Homo sapiens: one gene and its partners. The protein of the gene in region 3 interacts with the protein of the main gene of each other region in a pairwise test. Each region holds a gene or a part of one and is shown on either strand. Other genes may lie near its edges. The genes, in order: PPP2R5A, PPP2R5C, DZIP1 and MECOM.

Region 1 (7,775 bases), on a different chromosome or scaffold from region 3:
GTTTTTCAAACCCTTTGCTATTTACTAAATATTTATTAGGTTGCTGCTAAAGTGATTGTGGTTTTTGCCATTAAAAGTAATGGCAAAAGCCGCAATCACTTTTGTACCAACCTAATACTAGGTAAATATTTAGACTGAACATGCCTAGAAAGCATTCTCTCAAAATACTTACTTCACCAAGGTTAAAATGTTTTCTATGCTTTTATACTTTTCTGTTTCACCCTACTTCATCTTTTGTTTTTCTTGAATCCTCAGTAAATTTTCATAACTAATTATGTTTTCACTCTCTCCTGAATTTTCATTCTAGAGGCAAATAACAGTAGAATTCAAAGCCTAAGTTGCCTTGCTGGTTCATAAACTACTTTTATTCCAAGATTACATCTTATATCTTAATCACCAAAAGCAAGGAAATGTTTTCTATCCCTATCAAGTGGTTTATTGTTAATGAGTGGCAAAAATTCTATTATTAAAAACAAAACAAAATTCAAGGGAGTAGTAGTTTTGGGACCCTCGAAGTATGCTTTAATTCCAAAAGGTGAATGAAGATTTAAAAGATTATTGGTGAAGACAGTATGCATATAAAATTTCACTGTGGTCATCTGATCCTATCATCGTACATCTTAACTACTACATATTAATAGTAGTCTATATTTCGGTTATTCAAGACATAACTCACGAGAACTCTCCCCTCCTAACCCCTTCTTTTAATGTAGATTAATCTCACATTTCTTCTTCTAAATGATTTTAGCTTAACGTACATTATTCTACTTAATAACTATAAAGGCTATAAAACGAAAGCTACAATGAAATGCTATTAATGCAGACCAAAAACATGAAAATAAATAGAACACTTACTGGCTCTGTTAGTGTTGTATCTTTCTCCAGGAACTGTACAACACAATATGCTAGCTAAAAGGTAAGGGACAGTTTATAAATATTAGTGAGATAACATTTAATAATGTAGGATTTTTATATTTAGCCAATATTTTTTAGACTACCTCATTTTGATAAATTATTCCAATATATAAAAATATACTCACAACTGTGAATGAAATTGTGAAATACCTCAATCGTGAAACTATACTCACAATTGTGTAACTTTTTAGCCTTGAAAGTAACTTCAAGTTTAAAAAACATTTTTAGTAGTAATTTCTGACTATAAAGTTAACTGAAATAAGACTAGAGCTAACAATTTAGTTTTTCAGCATGTTTCTACATGTACACCTATGCTGATATATTATTCTCTAAATATTAATAGAAGAGACCAAAATCTCTCTAACTAGGTCTAGGTTATTGCAGCTGGAAGAAACATTCTGTAGATATGTGGGATTTATTCAAAGTCACATAATTAGGTCAAGACCTGGACTATAATATGAGGAAAGTGTGTATCTTAAACTGTAAGTGTAGATATAGAAATTAAATAATTGGTCTTACTTAACAACTAAATACTTTAAAATAAGAAAAATTTGCTTTGGGTAATTTTGTAAGCAAATTGCTTAATTATACTTAAAACTGTCATCTCAGTATTTCTCAATTTCTCTGCCTTTATATTGGCCTTTGAAATAATATTCATTTCATCTGAAATGTTTCTGAAACTTACCTGAGCATGAAACAAAGCTAATCCTTTTGCAGTATGCATAGGAATAAGAACCTTCATTAGAAATTGTTTATGTTCTGCTTTCAGTGGCAATGCAAAGCCATTGATAATACTGGAGGGAAAAAAAGGCAGGGGAAGGGTTAAGTAGTTACTACTTTGTTTCTAAAAGCTGTCATATCCATGAGTACATAAGGAACAGTGCTATGCTTCAATCCTGGTGTTGTATGACTGCTCATCTTCAAACTACTTTAGGAAGACTATTACTATGAAGTCTGTTCCTCTAAGTCATTTGATGATTCCAAAAGAAAATTAGGACTGTCAATTAATTCCCAAGTAATTTCTATCTTCATTTTCTATCAAACCTGTCACTTTATGCATTGTTGCTTTTATTTTTGCCCCCAAAGCTCCAGGAGAGTCAGTACCACAATATTGTTAGAATGTTCAATATTTTTCTGAAGTAAATGGGTAATTTTTCTTACTTTGTTGGATAACGTGAAAGAAGTAGTTCTCTCCACAATCATTTTCTACTATTAATAAAGGAAACTAAAATCATTGTCTAAATAGTAACAGAAGGGTCTAAAATTCTCTTAATACTAATACGTAGTGAATAAGGAAGGCAAAGTGTTATGGCAAAAGGTAATAAGAATTCAGCTGAGGCTGGGCATGGTGGCTCACGCCTGTAATCCCAGCACTGTGGGAGGCCGAAGGGGGTGGATTGCCTGAGGTCAGGAGTTCAAGACCAGCCTGGCCAACACGGTGAAACCCCATCGCTACTAAAAATAAAAATTAAAAAATTCGTTGGGTGTGGTGGCAGGCACCTGTAATCCCAGCTACTCAGGAGGCTGAGGCTGGGGAATCTCTTGAACCCGGGAGGCAGAGGTTGCAGTGAGCCGAGAACGCGCCATTGCACTCCAGCCTGGGCAACAAGAGCGAAACTCCGTCTCAAAAAAAAAAAAAAGACTTCAGTTGAGAAACTATGTGTTCTACATTTAAACTCTAAAATATGACATAATTTCTCCAACCCCAGCTAAGATTTTAATACATAAAACATTCACTTACTTAATTCTTAAAAAGAACAAAAAAACCTGACCTACCTTCCTAATATTTCAAGAAGTTCAGCAACACCATTGAAATGTTCTGTTTCATATATAAACCTGAATTTAAAATAAAGACAAGATGTAATCAAAATCAAACTTCAGAAAACTAAGAGAAACAGGCAGGAGGGTGAAGAAATCAATCCAAAGGACAGCTATTAGAAACACACAAGCATGTTTTGGGTCTTATAAGCAGTTTTGCCCCAAACAGTTAATTCATATCAATCTTAAAAAAGAAGATGTTTCCTACTGAACTACATATGCCTTTGCCAAAACTCGCCATATGTGAAGATAACAGATTGTCATTTCACCTGGAATATTCAACTTAATAATTAATAAGAAAGATAAGTTTCCTCAAAGAAATACTTTTTAAAATAAGAAACCTCTAATTATAGGGAAATCCAAGAGAAAAAGACCCATATGTAATAAAGCCATTTTTAATCAGAATTTCTTTACACCTCTAACTATATAGGCTGCATAGCTTTCCAAGATTAGGGCTGCCTTTAAAGCAGGGAGACATAAATATAATAGGGCAGATATTTGAAATGGGCTTAGGAAGTGATGACAGAGAACTGGAGAAAGATATTCACTCTAGAGGAGGCAGATATTACTCATCTCTAATTGTTGCAATGTGGGAATAGTAACCAAATTTTGCCAGATCTTCAATTAATTAAACAAACCAAACCTTGAATGTGGGTGTTGTTATGAAATCTCCTGATCTGAAGCAACTACTTAACAGATTAATATTTATAAAGTACACTTGGCCCTGTATCCGCAGGTTTCATTATCTGTGCATTCAACCAACTACAGATCAAAAATATTTTTGAAAAATAAATACAAATTTAAAATATAGAATAACATCTATTTGCACAGCATTCACACTGTATTAAGTATTGTAAGTAATCTAGAAATAAAGTATACAGGAGGATGTGTGGACGTTATATGCAAATACTGTGCCATTTTATATAAGGGACTTTGGATTCTGCTATTAGCAGGGGCCCTGGAATCAATCCTCCCCAGATACTGAGGGATGACTACAAGCAAATGATAGGCCCCATATAAGAGGACTGCTTGAGTTCAGGAGTTCAAGACCAGCCTGGGCAACATACATAGTATGTTACATATATACTACGTTACATATATATGTTACACATATATACTATGTTACATATATATGTTACATATATATACTACGTACATACAGTACATAGACCTTGTCTCTACTAAAAGTCAAAAAAATTACCCAGGCGTGGTGGTGCACACCTGTAGTCTCACTACTTGGCAGGCTGAGAGAGGAAGATTGCTTGAGTCTGGGAGATGGGGGCTACAATGAGCTATGTTCTCACCACTGCACTCCAGCCTGGATGACAGAGTGAGACCCTGTCTCAAAAAAACAAATAAAAATAAAAGAACTTGAATACAAGAAGATATGTAGGAGGAAAAGGTGCAATATACAATAAATGATTAATTTACCTGAGGAAAATGTTGTTAATTTGTTTTCTGATGAATGCTCTTAATCCAAGAAATTTCCCATAAATTCGGTGCAGAACAGTCTTCAGGAAGTCACGTTCTCTGGGATCTTCACTATCAAAAAGCTCCAGGAGCTTTAAAAGAAACCTGAGAAATTACTTTTAAAAAATAATCGAGCTAAAGCTTTATTCTAATTTTGATCTTAAAGATTATCCATGACATCTTTTAAAAATTTTTTAGAGTTCTTCCTTACCACACTGACTTTATTCTTGCTAAGTAATGAAGGTGAGGAAAAGCTTAGGAAATATTTCTTCTCACTTATTTCACTTCAAAATATGACATTTACAATAAATATAAATATTTCAAAAAGTGGATTTTTCTTTACCTTCCCACTGATTTTAAAATTCAATCCTACTCTTGAATACTAAAGAGGCTCACAATTTTGGAGTGTTAAAATTTGGGATTTTTAATGCTTTTTGATCGTCAAAACTACATAGAAAATCGTTTAAGTTTTTAGATTGCAAGTCATCAAATAGTCTTAAAAAGATCCATGTGTAAATGTATATTTCTAGTTTACTAGAAAGATGTACATATACTAAGACTTCTTTTTGTGAATTTACAATAAATTCAAGACAGTTACCATGCAGACATTTGAAAAATTAACATTCAGTTATTAGAATAAAATATTGGCAGATACATACTAATAGAGTAGAAATCATATATAAAATAACACTGGACTAAAAGATGAGGCCAAATTTTTTTTTTTTTTTTTTTAAGACAGTCTTGCTCTGTAGCCTAGACTGGAGGGTAGTGATGCAATCACAACTCACTGCAGCCTCGACCTCCTGGGGTCAGAAGATCCTCCTGCCTCAGCCTCCCAACTAGCTGGGACTACAGGCACATGCCACCACACCCAGCTAATTTATATATTTTTTGGTAGAGACGGGGTTTCACCATGTTGCCCAGGCTGGTCTCAAACTCCTGAGTTCAAGCGATCCACCCTCCTCGGTGTCCCAAAGTGCCAGGATTATAGGCGTGAGCCACTATGCCCAGCCCATAGATTTTTCAGCTTAGCAAATAGCTGAAAAATTTTAAACCAGTTCCACAGTCAGCACTCTCCTATACCTCAATTGGCCCAATCAGTGTACTCCTATATTCTGCACAACTTTTCAGCAAAACCTGAGAGAAGAGACTTTAGAAAAAGTTAAAGTCAAAATCTCAAATTTCCATTTAAAATGGTAAAGAAACTTAATTTCTTCTGTCAAAAAAAACACTGTATTTTAAACATTGGATTTTCTTAGAAAAATATAAAATACTCTCTCTAGAGTACAAGTATCTGTAAAGCTGTCAAGGAATTTTATGTTCTGAACTTTCGTGTTTATAATTACAATAAAGATAGCAAGCTCTGAACCTCATCAGAAGTTCTTATTCCATTTTGTTTTGAATTATATACAATTGCTAACACATGCATCTGAAACCAGAGTGGATGACTTAAATCATATTTATATCTCCCAAAACAACTGCCATACTTATAGTTTCCATTCTTTGTTTGCTAGGCTGTTAAGGCCCTCATGAGACTCCAGCAAAAAATATCTACGGAGTATGAGAATTTTTGTTAATATATCTAATAAGTTCACATCAAATTATTCTAATTAAAAATGGCAGCCGGGCAAAGTGGCTCTCAACTGTAATCCCAGCACTTTGGGAGGCCAAGGCAGGCGGATCACTTGAGGTCAGGGATTTGATACCGGCCTGGCCAACACAGTAAAACCCTGTCTCTACTAAAAGTACAAACAAAAATTAGCCAGGCATGTCGGCACATTTGCAGTCCCAGCTACTTGGGAGGCTGATCCAGGAGAATCGCTTGAACCTGGGAGGCCGAGGTTGCAGTGAGCCAAGATCCAGCCACTGCACTCCAGCCTGGGCAACAAGAGCAAAACAGCCATATAAACTGCTAAAAGCAATTACTGGGCCCTAGCTTCTCAGATAATTCAAGCATTTAAAGTAGAAGGTAGAAAACAGATCCTGCCCCACCAGTTTTCTTTTTGCTCCCCTCACACCACAAAATAATACAGCAGCTTAAATACCTCAAGCTCTAGACTAACAAAGCACTAAGGCAATTGTTCCCCTCAACCTGTTACTGTATTAAATACAATTTCATATGGCATTACTAGAGCTCCCTAATGTATCCCACACAAGAGCTGCACAAGGAAATAAACAGGCATTCATTTGCAATTACCAAAATAACATAACTCCATTTAATGTAATTTTTAGTCATGATTAAAATGTATATGTTACTGTTAATACACACCTAATATTTCTTTATAGTTTATGAAGAGCTACTTCAATGGTTGAAGGAAATATTTTAGGCTGACAATGTTCTTCATTTATCAATCCTTCACAGCAACAGGTCAGAATACTTTATATGAGGTCAAGGGTAGTTATGAATGACCAAAGATCAGCTCTAAATATACCAAACTCACATTAGTAGAATTTTTATCATAGGGCACATACAAAGCGGTCTGAAGGGTAGGAAAGGTCCTTGCAATGATTTTAATCCTGGCCTCAGCATCAAATTCCTAAAGAGGCCTGCATACTCAGGCCTAGAAATGCCTAGAAAGGTTTGGTCTACTTCACAATTTTCTTTGGGGCCAGCCAATTCCATATAGTTAAAAAGGGGCCTTTGGCCAGTGCAGTGGCTCACACCTGTAATCCTAGCTCTTTAGGAGGCTGAGGTGGGAGGATCCCTTGAGGCCAGGAGTTCAAGACCAGCCTGGCCAATGTGGTGAAACCCCGTCTCTACTAGAAATAGAAAAAAAAAATCAGCCGGGCATGGTGGCGTGTGCCTGTAGTCCCAGCTACTTGGGAGGCTGAGGCAGGAGAATCGCTTGAACCCAGGAGGCGGAGGATGAAGTGAGCTGAGGTTGCACCACTGTGCTCCAGTCTGGGCAGCAGAACAAGACTCCCTCTCAAAAAAAAAAGAGGCCTTTAAATTTTTGAAAAGGTTTTGAAAATGAATATATTCTTAGAAATTGTGAATATGTAGGTTCCAAAAATAACAGCTAATAAGCAGTTTATAAAAAAAAAAGAAGGCATCACAATTAATTCTACCTCCTTACGTTCTTAATGATTCCACTTTATCTGTGGTTTAGGAATTGGGTGGTGGGGCTTAGGTGCAAAGAGGAAAGAAAAAGGAAAAGGTAATTGATACTTAGGAAAGGAGCCTAAAGCCCAAATTCCTCACAATGATTCTACTCCTTTTTTCCCCCGTCATTTCAAAGTCCCAATGCTTAAAATATATGTCAAGTTCAAAGACTTACAAATGTAAAACAAAGATTTGCCCATGGATTGAATGGTCATACCACATTTTCTCAGATACTGCAGAAAGGCTTGTTTTTCTGGTATTTATAAAATAACTATGATAATTTAGGATTAAATAGGATAATTTGATTGACTTCATTAGACTCTCACCCTTGATAAAAATACTCTTGTACTCTCAGAGCTAACTTCACTTTTATTCTAATGGTTTGGCAGTAATATTAAGTGCTGTCAAATTAAACCATTAAAGTTTTGAAAGACTACACTATTTTAATAATAAGTTAATAAATCATTGC
Region 2 (7,775 bases), on a different chromosome or scaffold from region 3:
GATGTCTTCTCTGTTTCCTCAGACCGGATCCATGCATCCAGGTAGCATGGCAGTGACATTTGCACACAGACATCAGCACCCCAGGTTTCTGTACCTGGGGCTCCTGCCCCTGATTCGCCCCTGCAGCTTTTGTGTTAAGAAATGTTGCTAGGTCAGAAACCCAAGAAGAATTTGAGGTGATAGACCGTTGGCCCTCTGTTCCTTCCCCCCGCCCCAGTATTACTTTTTACTTAACCTTTTCTAGAGATATGCACTAAATTAATGCAATGTAATGTGGTAAGAAAGGTGTGTAGAAGTTAGGAGTGCAAGTTTTTTTCCTTACACATGAGAAATGACTTTCAATCAATCAGAATTGGCCTGGAATGAACCTTCCCGGACCTAGGTCGGTCATCAGTCAAGGACGCTGTATCAGTCTGCTCAGGCTGCCGTAAGAAAATACCACAGGCTGGTGGCTTAAACCACAGAAATGTGTCTTCTCTCCATTCTAGAGGCTGGAAAGTCTAAACTCAAGGGTGTAGCAGGGTTTGTTCCCTGCTGAGGGCCTTTTCTGGCTTGCAGACGGCCACTGTGCCCTCCCATGGCCTTTGCTCCGAGCAAGTGCAGAGAAGGCGAGTGTGAGCCTTCTACCATCCCTCCTTACAAAGACACTAATCCTGGAGGGCCAAGGCCCCACTTATGACTTCATTCACCCTTCATTATTTTCTCTGAGGACCCATCTCCAAATCCAGCCACACCAGGGTTTAGGTCTTTAACATGAATGTGAGGAAGGGAGGCCACAAGCATTGAGTCCATGACAGACACTGAAAAGAGGACATTGTGTTCAGAGCAAGCCATCTGAGTCACCTTGCAGGCCCTCAGCTCAGCATCAAGGATTCAGTGAGTGTGCAGGTGTTTGAGACGGGGCCTAGCTGCTGGGCTGACTGTCACTGTGCGGGAGAGCTTCAACTGGAAACCCTAATCACTAGCTTTCCTGCTAGTAGAAACCACCAGTTTACTTAGGAATCTCAGCTGACTGGGTGCCTCAGTCAGGGCTGTGCAGAGAAACAGCAGGAGAGACAGAGATTGAGATCTCAAGGACTTGCCTTCTGCAGTGGGTGAGTCCAGCGGGCAGGTCTGGACTCCGTGGACAGGCAGCGGGCACGAGACTTGGCCGTGGTGGACACTGCAGGCCGCAGGTGGACTCTCCTCAGAGAAGCTGCAGTTTGGGTCTCACAGGCCTCTCAGCTGACTGGTTGAAGCCCCCACATTCTCAAGAGTGATCGCTACTTGAAGTCCATTGATTATAGGTGTTAACCACATCTATAAAATGCCTTCACAGGAACACCCACAGCAGTGTTTGGACAGCTGGGCACTGTGGCCTAGCCGGGTTGACACATACGGCCAGCTGGCACAGTCGGGGACATTTTACTTTTTTTCAGTTATCGCCTTTAACCACGATGGGTGAAATCACACTTTCCTGTGCCTAAATAACATCTTAGGCAAGTTGGTTAACTTCTTAGTCATCCCTGGTCACAGAAATCCAATCTAGGTTAAAGCTTTCATCTCAGACCCTCTGCAAATGGCATCTAAGCCGCACCCCAGGCAGCCTGGCCAGGGAGGGACATGCTGTGGGAGAGGAGGGGAAGCAAGGGTGGCTCCGAGCCCCTCTTGCCCGCCCTCCCCCGGGGCTTTGAGCAGAACCCAGAGCAGAGGGGAAGGGCAGCTGCCTGTTCTGCTCAGTTGCTCCCTGTGGCCTCGGCCAGAATGGTGGTCTCTTCCTCTGTGGCATGTCTGTGACTCTTGGGCAGCAGGCCTCTTCCAGAGGGACGGCTGTTTCCTCTCCCCCAAGACCTACAGCCTCGTCTCTGGGTGAGCTGACCCCTCTCTCCCTTGGCAGCTTCCTGGGCGGCGTGGCCCTACGGCTCCTGCTCTGGCCTCTGTATCCCTGATGGGCAGCCCCAGAAACCTCGGAAGCAGTGACCGTGCTTTCCTTCCAGGCGCCATGGTTCCTCAGGCCCTGATGTCACAGGCTGTTCCCAGAGTCTCCTGCCAGGCATAGTCCTGTTCACAGATTCCTCTGCCACCCAGAGTTCGTGCCCAGGCTCTGCCCTCCCCACACTGTGCTCTGCCCCTGTCGGCACCAGGCCGGGCCCACAGCTCTAACCCACCGAAGAACAAAGTGCCATCTCCCTTTCCTGAAGGTGACCCTGTCCTGTGGGTGACTGGACCCTCACCCCAGTCTCTTGGCTTTGAGAGAGAGGGTAGAAACCCCAGTTCACGAATGCCACACTCCCCGTAGGAGCTAAAGACTCAATTCAGACTTTCCTTTCTCTGCCCTTCATGGCCCTGGAAGTTATGGAGAGCTTCAGCAGTGGCTGCTAATGACAGGACCCTGGGAGGACATGGCGGCCTGCCCAAAGTGTGTGTGTGTGTGGCCTTTCCTTAATAGTTGAGCTTTTAGCATCTGCTTGTTCACGTCTGTGGGCTTTGGGGTCAGGGTGCCAGGAGGGGCAGACTAGACCCCTGTCTGCGCCGAGTGCCTGTGGGCCAGCAACTGAGGCAGGGCCGTCCACCTGTCAATCACCGTTCTTTGGGAGGCTCCTTGCAGTGCCCTATACACACACTAGCTTCACAGAGGAGGGGACAGTCCCTGGAGAGTAGACATTGCCAGAAATTATAACACCAGTGAGAGTCAGGTTAACTCTCGGTTTTAGATTGCAAACTTTTGTCTTTGTACCTATGTCTTAGGAACATTACTCATACTTTTACTAGAAGTGTTTTTTAATTAGTTGTTCCTGGCTTTTCAGCCCCTTTTTTCATCCCTGCGTTTCTACAGTATCCGTGAAGGCCATTACAGTTGGTCTTTACGTCAGCTCCCCTCTCAGATGACACAGAGAACAAGCTCAGATGCTTGATACTCAGATGCTTGATGCTCAGAGCTTTTATAGCTGATGACTTTCTGAAAAATGATATTAAGGTTTGGAGTTCAGTATCAATACCAGTAAAGAAGGGAAGAAACAGGCAGGTGCGGTGGCTCACGCCTCTAATTCCAGTACTTTGGGAGGCCGAGGCAGGAGGATTGCTTAAGCCCAGGAGTTTGAGACCAGCATGGGCAACGTAGCGAGTTCTTGTCTCTGCAAAAAATAAATAAAATTAGCAGAGCATGGTGGTGCGTGCTGGTAGTCCCAGCTACTTGGGAGGCTGGGGCAGGAGGATCGTGTGAACCCAGGAGTTGGAGGCTGCAGTGAGCGATGATGGCCACTGTACTCCAGCCTGGGCAGCAGAGAGATGCCCTGTCTTTAAGAGGAAAAAAGAAAAGGGAAGAAACAGCAGTGGTGACATTGAGTATTAGCTTGGTCTTTACAAGACTGGGTATCTAAAGCCAGCCAAGTTTGCCCTGGACTCTCTAGAAACATCTTCTCGTTGTTATCGTAGAGTCAGATTTTAATCTTTTATGTCAAAGGTTTTGATTTTGTGCTTCTGAGAGTGGTGGGACTGGGGTTGTGATCACCTATAAGAGCCATTCACCAGAACCCAGTTATATAACTGGCATACGATCCGTTCAGAGATTCAATAAGGTAACCAATCATATTTAGACTTAGTATAAAAGAGGGTTGGGCATGGTGACTCACGCCTGTAATCCCAGCACTTTGGGAGGCTGAGGGGAGCGGATCACTTGAGGTCAGGAGTTTGAGACTGGCCTGGCCAACATGGTGAAACCGTGGTGAAATCCCATCTCTACTAAAAATACAAAAATTAGCCAGGCATGGTGGTGCACGCCTGTAATTCTAGCTACTCGGGAGGCTGAGGCACAAGAATCACTTGAACCCGGGAGGCAGAGGTTGTGATGAGTCGAGTTCGCACCACTACACTCCAACCTGGGCCGCAGAGGGAGACGTCACCTCAAAAATAAATAAATAAATACATAGATTTAGTACAAAATAAAAATAGGTTATAAATGTATGACATGGAAACAGTAATCTTTTCTGTTTATGTCACTGATCTGTCAGTATGTGTTATACAAGTCCAAACAGACTGAGAGAAATCTAACAGCCCATGCCTGGGCGCACAGCCATGCTGCCCCTACCGATCCTCTGTGCCCCTGAGCAGTCCTTTCTCTGGAAATGATCTTAGCTGCCGACTCAAAGGTCGTCCCACTCTGACTGTTGCTTTCCTCATCGTTGCGGATTGCAGAGGATGTTGGTGCCATTGTCACACGGGTCCTCCCTGCGTGACGCAGCCCTTGCCATTTCCAGCATTTTCAGCTGTGAATCTCTGCTGCGTCTTTCGTCATCTCATCCCTTTCTTACTCTCATTTTGAGCATTCTCCTTGGTCTTGCACCCACTGGATAGTATAAGACCTCAGAAGTCATCACTGTGCCATCAGCCTTTGTTGGTGTTGGTTGTCATTCAAAGTTTGACAGTCAAGAGTCCAAGTAACTTTGGTGGTCAACTTGCGTGCGCACCTGTCCAAAGTGATGTTTCCTGCTGCAGTTTTGATCCAGGCTCTCTCTGAGGACCCACACAGCTTCTGCGTTTTGAGGATACGGAGGAGCTAAGTTACCATGGGAAGCGGCTACTGTTAGAATTACCTAAGACTTTATAAAATGTTGTCTGTAAATATTTTAAATGCCCTGATTGTAATTATAGAATATGTGGATTTTAGTTTGCAGTTAACATGTTTCGAACATTACCACCTTCCTCCAATCCTACGGGAGCGGAATTTGACCCGGAGGAAGATGAACCAACGTTAGAAGCAGCCTGGCCTCATCTACAGGTATCGGGCTCTGGGTGATAGACTCGGAGGGCACTGGTGACACATGGGAATGGCCTGGGATCCACAGAGCGGGCGCACTGGTCTGGCCAGATGGACCTCTCCTCCTCAGTAGCATGGGCCTCGTAAACCCATATGTACAAGAAAAATATTTCAGCAGAATAAAGTTAATGTGTGTGTTTGACCACTTTACAACAGCCAGTGAAGATGTGTAATTGTGAGTATGTTCTCAGTGAAGATGGCCGCTGTGTTGATGGCCGTTGAATTGAATTCAGGCCCAGAGGTCCTAAGCCAACAATCTCCCAGTTTTTGCTCCTCATATTTAATAGGTGCCTGCTGGGCCCCCAGGTCCTGCGCTGGCCACTGCCTTTCCCCAGGGCATTTGTAAGGCAGAAGGTTGGTTGGCAAGGAGGCGCCAGGGTCGGCATGAGCAGAGCGGGGGCCAGGTGTGCGGGTGGGAGGGCCATCCATCCGTGACAGGCGGCCCACGCTGTCCCACCCAGCATGTCTGCACAGGGAAAGAATTGTCCCAGCTCCAGGAGGTCATGATTCTGGGTCCACATCTTAGGGCCCTCTTACCTGGCAGCCCCAGAGTTCCTGTGTATTTGGTTGGCTCTGCGCCTTGGCATTGTGGGACACTCCTAGGCGACAGGCTGCAAATCCCCCCTGCAGAGTTGGGTCATGGCTTGGTTTGTGGCATCTGTGCCCTGTAGTCCCTGAACAGTGTACTATAACTGATGACATCAGCCATGGAGATCATTTTGTTTAAATGCCGTTTAAGGGTGTAGTCTGTGGGTTTCACCAAATAAAATAATTACCATCACCATTTATCATTGAATTAAGCCATGTAATTTAGCATTAATTCTGTAGATATGTGGCTTTGAGAGGCTAATATTTGCATACCAATAAAGATTCAATTTCTGGTATATTTTAACCGCCATTCAATAAAATCTCATGTTATTTGACTCATTGTTTTTTTTCCTCCTAGCTTGTTTATGAATTTTTCTTAAGATTTTTAGAGTCTCCAGATTTCCAACCTAATATAGCGAAGAAATATATTGATCAGAAGTTTGTATTGCAGGTAAGGTACAAATTAGCTGACACTCTGAAAGCCCTGATGGAATGATGACACCCAGCCACTAAGTGTCTTTTTCTTCTCAAAGCTTTTAGAGCTCTTTGACAGTGAAGATCCTCGGGAGAGAGATTTTCTTAAAACCACCCTTCACAGAATCTATGGGAAATTCCTAGGCTTGAGAGCTTACATCAGAAAACAGATAAATAATATATTTTATAGGTAAGTCACGTGTGGATGGCGTTGTCCTTGTGTGTGGTGATGCTCATTTCCCCCCTCGATGCTCCCCTACCCCATCGTCTCCTCTGACAGGACTCAGCATGTGGAGGGGGTTTCTCAAAGCCTATTTGTCATGTGCAGGTGGACCCCCTTGTGCACTGTGTGCAGGGGGCTGCTGGGCTCATCCTCCCTGCCTTCCTCCCCTCTCCCCACAGCTCCCTCCTGAGCCACCAAGCTCCCCAGCGCCTCATCCTGGGTCCCTCCATTGTTCCTGTTTCTACTGAAAGGTCAAGTTTCCTGGAAATGTGGATGAATTGGTTCCATCCAGACCAACTGTATTAGTGAAGGTTCTCTAGAAGGACAGGACGCATAGGATAGATGAATATATGAAGGGGAGTTTATTAGGAGAGTTGACTCACACGATCACAAGGTGAAGACCCACAATAGGCTGTCTGCAGGCCGAGTCCCAAAACCTCAAAAGTAGGGAGACGGACAGTGCAGCCTTCAGTCTGTGGCGGAAAGCCCAGGAGCCCCTGGCAAACCACTGGTGTAGGTCCAAGAGTCCAGAAGCTGAAGAATTTAGAGTCCAATGTTCAAGGGCAGGAAGCATCCAGCACAGGAGAAAGATGGAGGCCAGAAGACTCAGCCAGTCTAGCCCTTCCACGTTCCTCTGCCTGCTTAATTCTGGCCGCACCGGCAGCTGATTAGATGGTGCCCACCCAGGTTAAGGATGGGTCTGCGTCTCCCAGTCCACTGACTCAAATGTTAATCTCCTTTGGCAACACCCTCACAGACATACCCAGGCACAATACTTTGCATCCTTCAATCTAGTCAAGTTGACACTCAGTATTAACCTTCACACCAGCTTTTTCCTTCTACCTGTGCATCACCTCATTCTTCCCGTGGAGTCTCAGTGAGAGGAGGCGGGGCAAGAAGTGATGTCATTCATCTGTAGAAAGCCTGAGATCTGTGCACCTCGGTTAAAGGTTTGGAGACTCCCACTGTGCACCAGGGGAGGGAAAGCCCCGCTGGAGCAGCCGGTGGAGGAGGACAGAGTCCAGTGGCAGGCCCACCTCCAGGCCCGCCCCTCCCCAGCCAGCCTCTGCTCAGCTCCAGGCTCCTTCCACGCCAGGGCTCTGTAGCCAGTGTTGGAGCCTCCTGGAATGTCTTTTTTACACCAGCCCTTCCCTCAGCCTCCCAGGCTTCCTGAAACATCCCTTCACTGGGAGGCTCTGCCTGACTTGGCGGTGGGTCTGGTCTCCCGCAAGGGCAGCCACCATGTCAGTTGATTTGTCGCACGCCCCACCCCACTGCCAGTTTCGTGCTCCCCACTGCGGTGGCACCAAGTGAATGTCAATAGAGGAAACAGTTCCTGTTGTTTCTTTTTGTTCCTGGAAAGTTCACTAAATGAGCAGTTTCTTCTACAAGTTACAGCTTCTCTGGTCAGCTTGCCTCTAAGGCATCTGACTCCAGGATGTTGCGAGGTAGTGACACATCCTGGTGATGGTGGGGACGGTATGATGGCGTGTCTCTGTGAGATAAGAGCATGAGCAGGTCCCACACAGCCTCGCTGCAGGGCCAGGGTGTGGACAGAGCACGGGCCATGGCCTGGAGAAGGGGCCAGGTGTCAGCCACGCCCAACACGGGCCTCGGGGTCCTTTCTTAGTCACAGTGACCACGGGAAAAGAAAAGGGGCATCTGAGACAGACAGATGGCAGATGAGACCCCCCC
Region 3 (7,775 bases):
TGCACGCTGACCCTGCGCGGGCAGACGCGCCCTTTGCTCCAGGTCCGGACCTGGGCGCTGCTATAGCAACGTCCTGGACGCCCAGACCTTAGGCCGCCGCCGCCGCGGAAGCGAGGAACCCGGCCTTCTCCCGCTCCTGAGGGCTGTGGCGGCGGCGGCCCGGGAGGCGGCCCAGGCTGGGTAAAGACCGCCCGGCTCCTCCTATGCAAGCTGAGGCAGCGGATTGGTTTTCAAGCATGGTAAGAGGCGGGAGGCCGGGGCGCCCCCGACGGGGATGCCGGGCTGGGGAGAACCGGGGCTTCCCCGGACCCCCAGCTCCCCAGCCTGCCCGCCCCCCATCCCCGCCTCCCGCCGCGCTCTCTTTGTGCCCCCCGCAGCCCTTCCAGAAGCATGTCTACTACCCGCTCGCCAGCGGCCCAGAGGGGCCCGACGTCGCTGTGGCCGCCGCCGCCGCGGGTGCGGCCTCCATGGCCTGTGCGCCCCCCAGCGCGGCTTCGGGGCCCCTGCCCTTCTTCCAGTTCAGGCCGCGGCTGGAGAGTGTGGACTGGCGGCGGCTGAGCGCCATCGACGTGGACAAGGTGGCGGGGGCTGTGGACGTGCTGACGCTGCAGGAGAACATCATGAACATCACCTTCTGCAAGCTGGAAGACGAGAAGTGCCCACACTGCCAGTCGGGGGTGGACCCGGTGCTGCTGAAGCTCATCCGTCTGGCGCAGTTCACCATCGAGTACTTGCTGCACTCACAAGAGTTCCTCACCTCGCAGCTGCACACCCTGGAGGAGCGGCTGCGCCTGAGCCACTGCGACGGCGAGCAGAGCAAGAAGCTGCTCACCAAGCAGGCGGGGGAGATCAAGACGCTCAAGGAAGAGTGCAAACGCCGGAAGAAGATGATCTCCACCCAGCAGCTGATGATCGAGGCCAAAGCCAACTATTACCAGGTGGGCAGCTGTGTGTGAGCACGATTCATAATCCAGTAAACAACTCAGTTCCCATTTGATAGGCCTGTCCCGTATCACCACTCTTTCTTCTTAAAGATTTATATTGTATATCAGAAGACACAGTATATTTAAGCAAAAACAGTCATTTAACCAACAAATGTCATGGTTCATTACCTTCTGCAGACAATCAGGGGATTAATAATTAAACAACAAATGTCGTCTGTGGTGCTTTATGGAAGTTATCTAAATGCTGGTTGTTGAAACACTTTCCTCCTCCGAATCAACCTCAACATGAAAAAACCATATACAAATTGCTGTTGAAGCCAGTCCCCAAACGATGCAGAATGTTTAAATTTGTAGGGTCTTTTTCTCATTTTTATAAATTTTGAAATACTTTCAAACTGACAGAAAAGTTGCCAGGAGACTGTAAGGAATTTTCATGCGCCCTTCACCCAGATTCCCCCATTATTAACATTTTCCACAGTCCCTCTATTTCTGTATACATATTATTATTACTTTTGAACCATTTCACAGTGAGTTGCAGATCCTAAATATTTCGATGTGTATATTTTCTAAGAACAAGAACATTCACTTACATAACAGTATTTAAAGAATAAAATATTTTTATCTTCTGGTCTTAATCTTCTACTGTTTTGGGTTAGACATTGAGTCCAAGATAAATATTGCAATTTTTGAGTATAACATAAACCAATGTATTTTTTTTTTATTGACTAGTTGGAGGAAGTGCAGAAGGTATAAACAATGATTGAGAAAGATATTGAAGTAAGCAACAGATTAACAAGATTGATGTCATGCCCTTACTTTCTAGTCCTTTCGGCTGACTATGGCTTAAAAGGCCTCACTGGATTTAGGAATAGTGGAGCTGATGCATGAATGCTGGAGAGAACTGGGTGCAGGGCAGAGAAAATGGTGCAGTTAATATTGCTCAGGACTGACCCAGCAGGAGTGTTGAGTGTTCTTAAGATAGGGGAACAGTGGCCGGGTGCAGTGGCTCACACCTGTAATCCCAGCACTTTGGGAGGCCGAGGCGGGCGGATCACGAGGTCAGGAGATTGAGACCCGAGACCATCCTGGCTAACATGGTGAAACCCCGTGTCTACTAAAAATACCAAAATTCGCTGGGCTTGGTGGCATGTGCCTGTAGTCCCAGCTACTTGGGAGGCTGAGGCAGGAGAATCGCTTAAACCCAGGAGGCGGAGGTTGCAGTGAGCCAAGATAGCGCCACTGCACTCCAGCCTGGCAACAGAGTGAGAATCTATCTCAAAAAAAAAAAAATAAATAAAAATAAAAAAGATAAGGGAACAATTAGGAATATTATTAGAAGGACTTAGTGTTTGGTCTTGGGTAGACAACCCTGAGGTATAATCTTCAAATGACACTGGGCATTGCTAATTGCTTATTTGTTTTATAAATGCTGCTTAAAAATTAAATATTTACAAATAGTGCTAAGATGGTTTTTTTCTTGTGCAACGAATATAATGGATTCTATTTAAACATTTTTAAAGATTTATTATAGTCCAGCTTTAGCAGCCATCTAGTGAAATGTTAAAACCTCTAACATACAGAAATTGTATGTTTATAAACTTTTTTTTCCTTTTTTGGGGTTACTATAGAAATGGCTGTTATAAGAGAAGATTTTCTTTCTTTCTCTTTCTCTCTCTCTCTCTTTTTTTTTTTTTTTTTGAGATGGAGTCTCACTCTGTCGCCCAGGCTGGCGTGCAGGGGTGCGGTCTTGGCTCACTGCAGCCTCCTTCTCCCGCGTTCAAGCGATTTTCCCACCTCAGCTTCTTGAGTAGCTGGGACTACAGGTGTGCACCACCATGCCCAGCTAATTTTTGTATTTTTAGTAGAGACGAGGTTTCACCGTGTTGGCCAGGCTGGTCTCAAACTCCTGACCTCAAGTGATCCACCCACCTCAGCCTCCCAAAATGCTGGGATTACAGACGTGAGCCACCACACCTGGCCTAAGAGAAGATTTTCAAATGTGAATGATAAGTAATGATTAAAAGGTAATGACTCAATTTATCAAATGAGTGACACCTACTACTTTTTCAGCTACCAGACCTTGGCAAGTTGCTCAACCTCCCTGTGCCTCAGTTTCTACTCTGTGAAATGGGAATATTAATTGTACCTACCATATAGCAGTTGTTAATGGGGATTGAATGACTTAGTGCATAGACTGTGCTTAGAGCAGTGCTTGGCATGTAGTTAGTTATTGTTTTAGCTAATACCTGGGAATGAGGGAAAAACGTTTTGTGGCATGACAAATACTAAAGCTGACTTACTACAAAATGTGAACAATCATATGACTGCTATCATGTGAGTTTTTCTTTCTTCCCCTATACAGAAAATCCAAAGCCTAGACTCCTTGTTCTGACACAATGATTGGGTCCACCGCATTATCAGTTTTACCTTTGAGAAATTGTGGTCTCATTCTCATTCTCATACCACTTCTCTTTGTCTCTACTCCCTTTGCTTTAAGAAATCATAAGAACTGAGTAGCTGAGACAAAAAAAAATTAAAGATGCCTGTTCTTGAAGGCTTGAAGACACAGACAGACAGACACACACACGCACGCATCCTAATGGGTTTTTTCCCCCATGGGGTGTGCGTGTGTGTGTGTGTGTGTGTGTGTGTTGTGTATAAGGGGGGTAGTGATGGCAATGTGTAAGGTCTTTTTCCTCAATATTTTATTTAAAAAATTTAAAATGCAGAAAAATTAAAACAACAATATAGTGAATACCCATATATGGGGGATTTTAAAAGAAAAATCTCATCGATTTTCAAATAAAAATTAGTACTGAAATATTATAAACATACAAAAAAGTGCATAGACTAATGTAAGACATACCATATACCCACCTCTTAGATTTAACTCAGGTTAGGCTGGGCGCAGTGGCTCACACCTGTAATCCCAGCACTTTGGGAGGCCAAGGCAGGCAGATCATCTGAGATCAGGAGTTCAAGAGAAGCCTGGCCAACATGGTATAACCCCATCTCTACTAAAAATACAAAAATTAGCCAGGTGTGGTGGCGCATACCTGTAATCCCAGCTACTTGGGAGGCTGAAGCAGGAGAATCACTTAAACCCAGGAGGTGGAGGTTGCAATGAGCTGGGATCACGCCATTGCTCTCCATCCTGGGTGACAAGAGCAAAACTCCATCTCAAAAAAAAAAAAAAAAAAAAAGATTGAACTCAGGTTAGCATTTTGCTATATTTCCAAGATAGCAAAATGTTTAAAGAGTTTTAAACATCTTAGAAATAAATAATTTTCCCTTCCTCGATTCTCAGAGAAAATCTGTTTGACTATATCCTTCCTATTTATGTTTATGAACATATAAAATATTTTTATGAACATATGTATTCATAAGACAGTGTTTTTAAGTTTGAAAATTTTCTATAAATGATATTATACTTATAGATCTGTACTAATCTGCCAAGGCTGCCATAAAAATAACACAGGTTAGATGGTTTAAACAACAGAAATGTATTTTCTCACAGTTCTGGAGGCTGGAAGTTGAAGATCAAGGTGTCAACAGGGATGGTTCCTGGTGAGGCCTCTCTTCCTGGCTTGTAAACAGCCACCTTCTTGCTATGTCCTCATCACATGGCCTTTTCTGTGTTTGGAGAGAGAGAGAGAGAGAGAGAGAGAGAGAGAGAGAGAGAGATCGCTAATGTCTCTCTCTTTTTCTTTTTTTAAAGTGAAGGGGTCTTGCTATGTGCCCAGGCTGGCCTTAAACTCCTAGGCTCAAATATTCTTTCCGCCTCAGCCTTGCAAGTAGCTGGGACTACAGGTGTGAGCCACTGTGCCACACTTACCCTATCAGATTAGGCCCCCCGCCTTATGATCTTATTTAACCTTAATTATCTCATTAAAGGCCTCATCTCCAAACACAGTCACAGTTGGAGTCAGGGCTTCTCTCCCAGTTTGGAGAGTTACACTATCCAGGTTGGTAACATTCACATTCTCTTACTCAGCCATAATGTCTTACTTGTTTTTTTCATTGGTTTTATATTTATGTGCTCATTCAAAATCCTTTCACCTCAACATCTCCATTCTTGAGTTTCTCATTTTGAATTATCTCTTAATTCATAGGATTGTCAAAATGATTTGTCTTACCCAGAAGGCCCAAGAGTGCTGCATTTCTTCAACTCTATCAAGTTTGAAAGACATATTGGATGAAGAATATTCTTAGTCACACTTTCCCTCTGAACTTTTTGATGTGGTTCCTTTGTCTTCTGGCAGTAAATGTTGCTGTGAGAAGTTTGAGGGTGGCCTAAAGTTTTTTTCTTGTGAGTGACTTGCTTTTTCTGCCTGCATGACTGAAGAGTCCCTTCTTTCTGCTTGAAGCCTAGTAGCTTTCTAGGGTATGTCTTGGTGTTGAGTGTTCTGTATCAGTTTTCCCTGGAACCTGGTGAATTCTTAATCTGCAGATTCAGCTTTCACTGCACTTCAGAGAAACACTCTTGTATTCAGTCTTTAAATTTTGTTTCATTTTTGGCTTCTCTACTTCTGGGAAACCAGTTACCTTTATGCAGTATTGATTTTGTCCATTAGTTCTCCGTACTCTTTGGTTTCTTTCTCATTGCTTTAATTCTTTCCTTCTAATCTACATTCACTGTGATAAATTATGTCAGCCTTTCCTTTAGTGAGCAATTCAGTTTTCAACAGTGTCTCTTTTATTCCTTGCTTTCTCTTTTCTTTTTTTCTATTTTTTTTTTTTTTTTTGAGTCAAGGTCTTGTTTTGTCACCCTGGCCCCGAGTGCAGTGGCGCAATCTTGTCTCACTGCAACCTCCACCTCCCAGGTTCAAGCGATTCTCCGGCCTCAGCCTCCCGAGTAGCTGGGATCACAGGCATGTGCTACCACATCTGGCTAATTTTTGTATTTTTAGTAGAGACAGGGTTTCGCCAAGTTGGCCAGGCTGGTCTCAAACTCCTGACCTCAGGTGATCCACCCACCTTGGCCTCCCAAAGTGCTGGGATTACAGGCGTGAGCCACTGCACCCGGCCCTATTCCTTGCTTTTTCTTATTTATTTGTTCTGCAATGATGTTTCAGATCTTTTTTTTTTTTTTGTATTTTATCTTTCTTTTTAAACTCATTCTGGTTTTTTAAAAAATCATATCATTTTTATAGAATGTATGCTACTCTTATGTTCTGTGATGTGAATAGATTGTGAAGAACATCTTTAGATTCCTTTCTTAATTTATAGATCCCCTGCAGTAAGCTTTATTTTTGCATGCCATGTTTTTCCTCCCTTTTCCTCCCTCCCTCCCTCCCTTCCTTCCTTCTTCCTACCTTCCCTCTTTCCTTCCCTCTTTCCCTCCCTACCTCCTTACCTCCCTACCTTTTTTTCCCCTCCTCCCTTTGACAGGGTGGTGTGTTTGCATCCTCTCCATCATCACTGTGCATTTCTCTCATCTTACACTTACATGGGCAGCCCTGCTGAAGCATTCTACTTGCCCTGATAGAGTGGCCGTATTGCAGTTTGAAGGCTGGATGGTCTCTGTCTCTGTTAGGAACAGTATCGTTAGAACACCTTCTGGCAACATGTGAACTCTGGGGTGGGGTGGGGAGAGAGGGAGGCATAGCTTCCTCTTCCTTTCCTTTCTCCAGTGCTGTACACAGCCCGAGAGCCTATATGACTTACATCAGAGCTGGTGTGAGGGGTCCCTAAAGTTCTATAGGTGAACCAAAGCTGTCATGAGCCCGGGAGGTTGAAGAGATGCTTTAGGGATTCTCTGAGATGCAATACCAAGAAATATACCAGAATATGACTGGGCACCGTGGGTTACACCTGTAATTCCAGCACTTTGGGAGGCCAAGGTGGGTGGATCATTTGAGGTTGAGAGTTCGTGCCCAGCCTGGCCAACATGGTGAAACTCCATCTCTACTAAAAATACAAAAATTAGCTGGGAGTGGTGGCGGGCACCTGTAATCTCAGCTACTCAGGAGGCTGTGGCAGGAGAATCGCTTGAACCTGGGAGGTTAAAGCTGCAGTGAGCCATGATTACGCCACTGTACTCCAGCCTGGGTGACAGAGGGAGACACTTAAAAAAAAAAAAAAAAAAAAGGAAATATGCAGAATGTTAGTTTTAGAAACCAAAGCCTGAAGTCTGGATGCAGTTACACTGATTAAGAGTAAGGCAGCATGGTGAACAAAAGAACATGTTCAGTGACACAATGGGCATGAAAAGAGCAAAATCCAAATGGAGGGAAACTCTGCAGGACAAGCTTCAGCCCCTTCAGCAAAAGGATAGCAAGGAAAAAAAAGAGGTGGAGGGGAAACCTATAGACTAAAAGAGTGTTAAGAGACATAACCATCAGTTACAGGATAGGGATAGGGTCTTATTTGGATCCAGTTATTAATAATTATTCCAAAACAAACCGAATGTTTTTTCTAAGACAATATGTGAAATATTAGGGAAAAATAATCAAATTAATAAAAATTAAAAATTATCCAAATAGTTGAATATTTGTTTTTTAAAAAGGATTTAATTTTTATATTTTATAAGGTGGAATAATGGTATTATGATTTGTGTTAAAGTCCTGTCTTCCTTTTAGAGATACATTCTGAAATATTTACAAATGAAATATATAATATCCAGGATTTACTTCAGAGTAATCCAGGGGTGAGTATATAGATGGAACAAATGGGATTTTTGCTTAAAATTTCAATCAGTGTAAAAGTAGAAAAACAGAGGTATACGTGGAATTGACTTCTTTTTTCTCAGAAAATTTATTTTAATAGGTTATACTTCCAAGCTTTTGTTCATTCATATATTAAGCCTGTGTTCTGGGGAGAAAGCTAGAG
Region 4 (7,775 bases), on a different chromosome or scaffold from region 3:
AAGACCAGAGCTTGCATCCTTTAAACAAAAGTAAAATAAATTTTAAATTAAGAAACCACATTCAAGATGTTTATATACCGTATTTGTTCTTTCAATACGATTTTCCACATGGTGGAAAATATGTAAACCTGTTTTTTAAAATTACTAAATGTATAAGGACTTTAGGATGAACCAATTAGAGATAGTGCTGCTTTGCATTTTCCTTGCAATGATAAACTGTATATATTTTGATAAATGAACACAATTCTATTCTGCAAATAGCACTGTGCATTGTGGTGAATTCTTGTGCAATTACAGAGCTTTGCTGGAATGCTCAGTGGTCTCTAGATAAATTCCTTCACCCTCTATGGTAACAACTTGTCAGGTAGACTCATTTCCTGTTTTTATCTAAGCCCGAAAAGAACAAGAATGACCTTCATGAGTATGGGACGAGTCACAGTATGATCTATTTCTTAGTATCAGCAACCACCACACACAAAACACATCTTGGATATTTATTTTCTTAACTGAATCCTGCTCACTCCAAAATGCACTTTAACTCAATAAACAGTTAATAGCAGACAATCATTTAACACTGAAATCATGTTATTTTTACACATATATTAACTAATTTTTCTTTAAAGAGTTTGGGTTTTAATTCTGCTAGAATTTCCTGTGTTCTTCCACACCAGCGTCATAGGAAATCCTAATGTTCTCAAGATGTCTTTCATTTCATTGCACCTGCTTTTCAGGATCAACAAGTTAGTTTACAAGCTGGAAATCTCAAATCCAAAATACTTACTTGTGGGTGAAACAAGAATCCTGGAGAAGGCCTCAAGTATTTCTCTTTTAAAGCTTCAAGTGGGTCAGTTAGTTTTCTTTTCTCTACTCTGAAAGGTTAAAATTAGATTTTGGAGATGAAGCAGTCTCACATATCAATCACTACATAATCACTGACATTTAAAGGAACTAACAATAAAGTCAATGGTAGGTTTCTGGGAAGCGCACTCATAAAACTATAGAGACATCTGTCCAGTTCTTGGAGATTCCTCATGACACTTCTAGGTGCTTAAGAAGAAAAGTTCCTATTTATAATGGAAAAACCCTACTGAATGACTAGGAATAGGAATAACGAGAAAACATGAAAAATAAGGAGTCACTAAATTAGAGGCATTTGTCATGAATTCAGTACCTTTCCATTCCAAATGTAGACAAGAATGCTTAATGATTTTGAAATCATGAGGTCAAGGCTGATTTTGAATATTAGAGCAATTTTCTACCAAGAAGGTGTTCTCCCAAATGTGCACTTTATTCCTTCCATATTTGTCAATAATAGTAAGGGCATTTCCAAGCATATACACTGCTAGCCACTCTTTGAGGTTCTCTCTCTCTCAATATATATTTATATTTAAACATATAGCATAATATATTGATATATAAATATTTTATGTAAATTATATTTAATATATATTCAGAGAGAGAGAGAGAATATATGCTCTTTGGATGCCACTGCTGATAAAGAAGGCAGGCAGATAGAATGGGTGTGGTGAGAAGAGAATGGGGAGCTTTCTGAAGATAGAGAGAGACACATAAAACTTACCTATATATCCCTTCTGCTTTAGAAATGTTTGCCATTCTATTTTGTATTAAGCACATAGGGAAATAATATCCCTATGTTGAATTAATTCATTGAATTAATTTCTTTTACCAACTTGGTAATTAAAAAAACTTTTAGATATGTGCACTCTTAAAGCAGAATAAAATACCTACCACTTATTGATATTATATATGTGATATATGTGTGTTGCATATACTATTTCACTTTTTGAAGTAGGTGATGTTATATCCATTTTATGCTTTTTTTTTAAGTCTCAGACATGAGAAGGCTGAGGTTGCAACCCAAGTCTGACACTAAAACTGGATTCTAGGTCTTTCATGAGTTTGGCAAAATGACAGGCCTAGGTCTTAATTGAGACAAGCACCAGAGAGATGTTGGAGATCACAGTGAGTAAGAGGAATGCTAGTAGGTGATGAGGATGAGTGCAAGAGATATGTGGAAGAATCAGAAGCCAGTTGCTACTGAGAGGGTACAAAAAGGAAAGCCTGAAAAATTATCTTAACAAAGGACTGAGACACATCATTGAGTTGGAAATACGACTTTACCCGAAATGTGTGACATACAATCTACACACAAAACACGGAAGACATGTTTTTCTTTTTTTTCCTTCTCTGGTAACAGGACTGCCAAACTAATTGAGATATAATAATTTTAAAAAGCAGCCAAACTTGGTACTGACAGCACTGAGTTATTTTGTATTGTCCTTTGATACTACTTTATCATATTCAAACGAGGGTAGTCCTTTCCATACTGACAGTGTTTCCTTGTTAACGCATTATAGATAATATACATAGAAGAAGAATTGTAAGTGAGAAGAACTTGCAGCTCTAGTACCTATTAAGTAATATGAACTTGATAAATATTGTTGAATTAAATAATAGCACATTTTCTCTTCACGAAAGAGAATTAGGCAAAATATGAAAATACTCCGATGTTAAATAAGTTCAATAAAAAATTATCCAGATGTTCCATGAACTCTTGACAATGTTCAAGATTAGAATGAGAAAGTAAATGTGAAAATGTTTGTAATATTCAAAATATGTAACAAACATATTATTATTCATACCCATTTAAAGAAAACTAGTATTTTAAAACTAAATCACTTTGGTCAGGTGAATATTACTGAATATTGCCAAAAAGGCCTTTTATTAAACTTGTATGTTTCACCCCAAGATTTTTTTGCTACATCAAAGGAAACCGGATAATGAAGCTATTAAACAGAGACATTTTTTAAGCCAACTACTCATATTATATACAAAACATATTCTGTGATTAATATTTCATTTACTTGGGGGCTCCTGAGAGATTTATTTAGAAACAATATGACCAGCCCTTATTAAGGATGTGTTGGTAGGTCAAAAAAGAGTGGACTCTTGCTGTTAGATATCCCCCCCATTCCAAAGAACCTGACCCATTTAAGTACCCACGCATATTTGCATTAATCCTTCAGGATCCTCATTCTTCCGCCACTTGACAATTTACTTTAAATATGACTTTCCCATATTTTCCACTCCAAAAAAAGTGTTTAAAAATAAATTTATTGTCAAGGGAAAAAAATTCTGTAGGCCTATTCCAAACCCCCAACTTCAGAAACATCCAAAAATAAGTTCAAACAGAATGATCCAACTTTCAGAATAAAAAATGAGTTCACTAGATCAAACAACTTCACTCTGTTTTATAATAATAGTAAAAATGATGTGTTAAAAAGCCATCACTTTACAGTGGAAATACCGCCTTTCATACATCTGCTCATATTTCGTCATCTTCCATACACGCTTACCTGTAAATAGGGTCCATAAAGAAAGGAGTGGGTCTTGCATGCTGCAAGGAACCATCTGAAGCAGGTCTTGATTCGACGTTGCTTCCTTTTTTTCCCCCAAACACGTGGTTTTTTCGAGGCTCAGTCAGCTTTGTCCCACTGGCTCTACTCCTACTGCCCATACTTAGATCCAGGGGCTGGTCTTGGCTTGTGGCAGGTGTCACTGGAGGCTTGGAGGGGACTGGAGTCAAGGGCTTCTCATCCTTTCGCTTAGTGGTGAGATCAAAGGGGGACTCAGAGCTGCCCTTCTGCAGTTTCTTTACTTCACCTGGTGATTGGGGTTCCATTTTCAAAGGTAACGATCTCAAGTCTCTATCAGGAAATGGGTACATTGATTGAGAGAATGCTGGAAAAAATGGGAGGGGAAACATGGAAGGGTAAGGTAAAGCTCCAACTTTTTTGTCTTGCAGCCCCACCAGTCCTGTTGAACCAAAGTATTTTTCAGCAATAGAAGCAATAGCCTTTATAGAATCATTCACAGCTCCTGACACCGCAGTCTGCTCCTCTAAAGATGGTGAGAAAATGGAATGATTGCTGTATTCTTTCTTATTATTTATTGAAGCCAGATTCTGAAGAGGGCTTACTTTGTCTTTGAACATTTTACCATTTTCTTTAAATTTCTCTTTATCACTTTCAATGTCACTTTCCAGATCAGAGCCCGAGGTTGTTTCCAGGTCACTGCCACTTGGTGTACTGACATCATCAAGGTCACTACTCTCTGACTGGTCACTGATTTTCTCAAAGGGCCTCTCTTCAGAGGACCTCTCGGGCTGGAGCTCCACTGGCTTATTGTCCCCTACAGATGGGTGTTTAGATAGTGCCTTCAAAATATCCTGTGTAGCTGGCAGTATCTGAGGATGTGTCATGAGGGGACTTTGACTTTTGTTTGTCTGTTCAGTACTTGATAGTCCTTTAACAGGAGAACTAGCAGGTATCAAAGGAGGCCTGTGGTACAAGCCGGAAGGAAACAGACCAGGGAAGCTAAAAGAAAATCCAGGAGCTGTTGGAAAGGTAAGACCAGCAGGATGCCTATTGGCGCCAAAATAGTCAGCAAGGCCCGGGTTGGCATGACTCATATTAACCATGGACGTTTTATCCATAGCTGGGGTTCCAGGAAGTGAAATGCCTTGGCCAAAAAATCCACCTGCCGCAAAATGGTTCTTGCCCTCACAAAACCTCCTGTGTTTATTTAAGGAAGACGTAGTGCTGAACATTTGTCCACAGTCTTTGCACTTGATTTGGGTTCTGCAATCAGCATGCATGCGCTTATGACGGCAAAGGTTTGAAAACTGAGTATAGGATTTATGGCAGACCTCACCTGTGTGCAAACAACAAAAAAGAATCTCAGGCTTTATGTCAATTGCTTCTGAATTTAGCAAATATCACAATTGGTTTACTCAAAATTTCAATTAGGAAGCCAGTAAAAGACATTGGAGGCACCAATCTGGGTGCTCCAAACACAGAAAACCCCATTTCACTAGATTCCAAAGCAAGGCAACCAACCTGACAAATGTCTTGAGGCAGCACAAATATTTCATATATATAGATATATATATCTTGTCACCCCCTTGTGCAATATTTTGCATAATATTTGTGTATTTAAATATTTATGAAAAGTTAAATTCCATCATGCATTGATTCTCCACACAATTATTATACTAATATAATGTTGAAAATTAGTCTTAAAATGCATTACGTACAAAACACAACAAGAACCCCTTTCAAATTTTAGAGTACTTAAAAATTCTATTTTGTAGGCACCAAAACAAAATAAAATATCCTCAACCAGAAACTTCACCTTTATTGCCTCTCCCCTTGGGGAAAAAGCCTGTGACTGCCCTGCTATTATTTAATTGGTATTATATCATATGCTCTCATCATTCACACATCAAAGCCACACAACAATGCACATTGTGTATTCTGAGACTTTTTTTAACAATCATTTTCATGATTTGAGAAAGACTGACATAATTTACAATGGCTCTATTTTAAGCCTGCAAAGGAAACTAAATTGAATGTAGCCCATCCTGCATTGCTGGTTCCCATGAACTATGATCACGTCCTCTGACTTCCCCTCACACCAGTGGTTGTGCTAACCTTCCTGCATTTATGAAAACCCCGTCCTTGGGAAACATGTCCACTTGTTGTCATATCTACACTGGTTATCTCAGGCTTGACTTCTGTGTGTTATAGCCAACTATGCTCAGTAGGGGAGAGCACTGTGAAAGCTCTAATCCAGAAAGAAGGGCACAGCATTGGATGCAGCTGTGAAATATGCCTCTTTGCTAAGAATTTGTCAATAAAGTAGAATCTTCCTCCTCACACATGTGCCACTATAGCCAAGTATATTTTAAGACCAAACTTTGTAACCCTTAATAACTCCTTTACCAGGTAAGAATCACTCACTTCACTGTCCAGCAGTATTACAGTATCAGTACCCTGAGCATCACATTTTTTATTTTACTTTACGGGATTGAGCCACGTTATGTGTGAGCTTATTTTAACACTTCTGTGCATGTTCAATACATGCAGAAACAAGATGTACCTTGTTGGTAATTGTTGAAGCAAATTTATTTTAAGAAATTAAATTGAAGACAAAATGCAACAGTTATTGCTTTCATATGATGGCTGCCTTTAAGTGCAGAATGATTGTGCTTCTAAGTCAAAGCAATAATAATTAAAAAAAAAAACTCATGTCAAGGAGATTTTATAGACTTTCAGTCAAGCAAAACTCACCCAGAGCTTGGATTATCCCACATACATCCAAACAGGAAGTACCAAGTAAGGGTATATCTCTTTCTTTTACTACTAAAGGTTAAAGTGTATTGTTGCATATATCAAAGTGTTTGGTAATATTAAAGGTGCCTTCAATTGTGGGATGAATCACAACGTTACAGAGGCTGTAACATGCATTTTAATGGGAATAGAAGATGTGGGTGATATCTTTTCAAATTATTTTACCAGAATATATCGACCAGAGTCAGCTTTAAAAGTATATACAATTTAACCATACACCATAAATATACATCTAATTTAAACTGTTTGATACACTAATTAAAATCAAATAATGGAGAAGGTAGAAACATCAGATGTTTACTAGATATATTAGAATAATTTATAGCTACAAGCAATAACAATATTTTATTATTGGAATTATAAAAAGTAAGAAAGCAACACCTCTTAAAAGGCATTGAAAAAATGTCTTGATGAGTATTCAACCAAGACATAAGTTTTTCAAAGACTTGTCATTTTTTGGCAAGGAAATGTTGCTCTCTACACTTCTTTCTTACAATCAGATGGCTTAAAAAAAAAAAATCAAGAGCTTCTCTCTATTGGAGTAACAGAAGTTCAGCTGACTTTTCTGGTGGCACCCGTTGTTACATGGCTGAGTGCTGTCTGTGTCTGGGCTCAAGAACATCGAATCTGGGATGTTTTCTTAGGCAGAGGCTTTGTTTTCGGCACTTGAAGGCCTGGCCTGGCATACCACAAACTACCAGGCCTCCAGGTAAACTGGTTCAATTGATGTTGAAGTTTATACTCTACTGTAATTTTCTCAGTAATAAGGAATTAGCCAGCAGTTAACATTGCATTTTTCTACTTATTAAACAAATTAAGAGGCATTTTGAATATATTCAGCCTATTAGAGCATGTGGTTTCTATTTGGGAAAGCTGTAGGTTTCTGTAAAGGCAGTGAGTAATTACCTTAGCACTGGTGACTTTGGGCTCAAGCGTGGCAGCACACTGTAATAAGAGACAGTTGCCATAAACACACCAGTGGGGGTAAATCGTGGTGTGTGGCCTTCTGGTGAGAAACAGATATCAGCCCTAGGTGAACCTCCTCCACTCAAGTCTCCACACCATTTCCTGATCTTTAATCTCTTTTGTTCTGAAATTACATGGCTATTATTCATAATTACTCCATGGTTCTCTGGCAGATTTTAAATTTGAAGAATGCCATCTGCTATTTAAATTTACCAATAATTACTGAAAATACATTCAAGGGAAATACTTTATGCAATCTGATTGGAAAGGGACACCCTATGGCACTTTAAAGTGAAACACTTGTCTTCAACACAATTAAAATTCCAGATCCCAGAATCTTCGATAGCAGAAGTCTATATTTTCTGACTTTTATTTTAAATAATAGAGAAAGCATTAAATGAGTGATCAGAATTCCTTGTGGTTTATTCTAGTTTTTTCTCACATCAAAACATAATAAAACTTACCAAAATTTATTTCTGAGGAATCAGAAATAAATGAACTATTTAATATCGTATGCCTGTAGTACTTCCAAGTACATTTTCAGGGCATTAAGACTTAAGAGTCAGGAATGCCTTTTTGCGACAAGAAGTCTAAAAT

The links.
Region 1: the proteins of DZIP1 (region 3) and PPP2R5A interact in binary tests that used the Homo sapiens proteins (3 or more experiments, as listed by UniProt).
Region 2: the proteins of DZIP1 (region 3) and PPP2R5C interact in a two-hybrid assay, tested with the Homo sapiens proteins (one study listed by IntAct).
Region 4: the proteins of DZIP1 (region 3) and MECOM interact in a two-hybrid assay, tested with the Homo sapiens proteins (one study listed by BioGRID).

The regions. Positions count from the first base shown.
Region 1 is NC_000001.11:212,342,323-212,350,097, reverse strand, and holds part of PPP2R5A (serine/threonine-protein phosphatase 2A 56 kDa regulatory subunit alpha isoform), read right to left. Parts: intron 4,296-7,775; coding exon 4,165-4,295; intron 2,752-4,164; coding exon 2,692-2,751; intron 1,710-2,691; coding exon 1,601-1,709; intron 910-1,600; coding exon 856-909; intron 1-855. UniProt on the Homo sapiens protein: The B regulatory subunit might modulate substrate selectivity and catalytic activity, and might also direct the localization of the catalytic enzyme to a particular subcellular compartment.
Region 2 is NC_000014.9:101,877,516-101,885,290, forward strand, and holds part of PPP2R5C (serine/threonine-protein phosphatase 2A 56 kDa regulatory subunit gamma isoform), read left to right. Parts: intron 1-4,645; coding exon 4,646-4,756; intron 4,757-5,741; coding exon 5,742-5,834; intron 5,835-5,916; coding exon 5,917-6,047; intron 6,048-7,775.
Region 3 is NC_000013.11:95,634,458-95,642,232, reverse strand, and holds part of DZIP1 (cilium assembly protein DZIP1), read left to right. Parts: 5' UTR 1-203; coding exon 204-239; coding exon of another isoform or gene 240-377; coding exon 378-938; intron 939-7,775. UniProt on the Homo sapiens protein: Molecular adapter that recruits protein complexes required for cilium assembly and function to the cilium basal body.
Region 4 is NC_000003.12:169,112,006-169,119,780, forward strand, and holds part of MECOM (histone-lysine N-methyltransferase MECOM), read right to left. Parts: intron 4,735-7,775; coding exon 3,378-4,734; intron 870-3,377; coding exon 782-869; intron 1-781.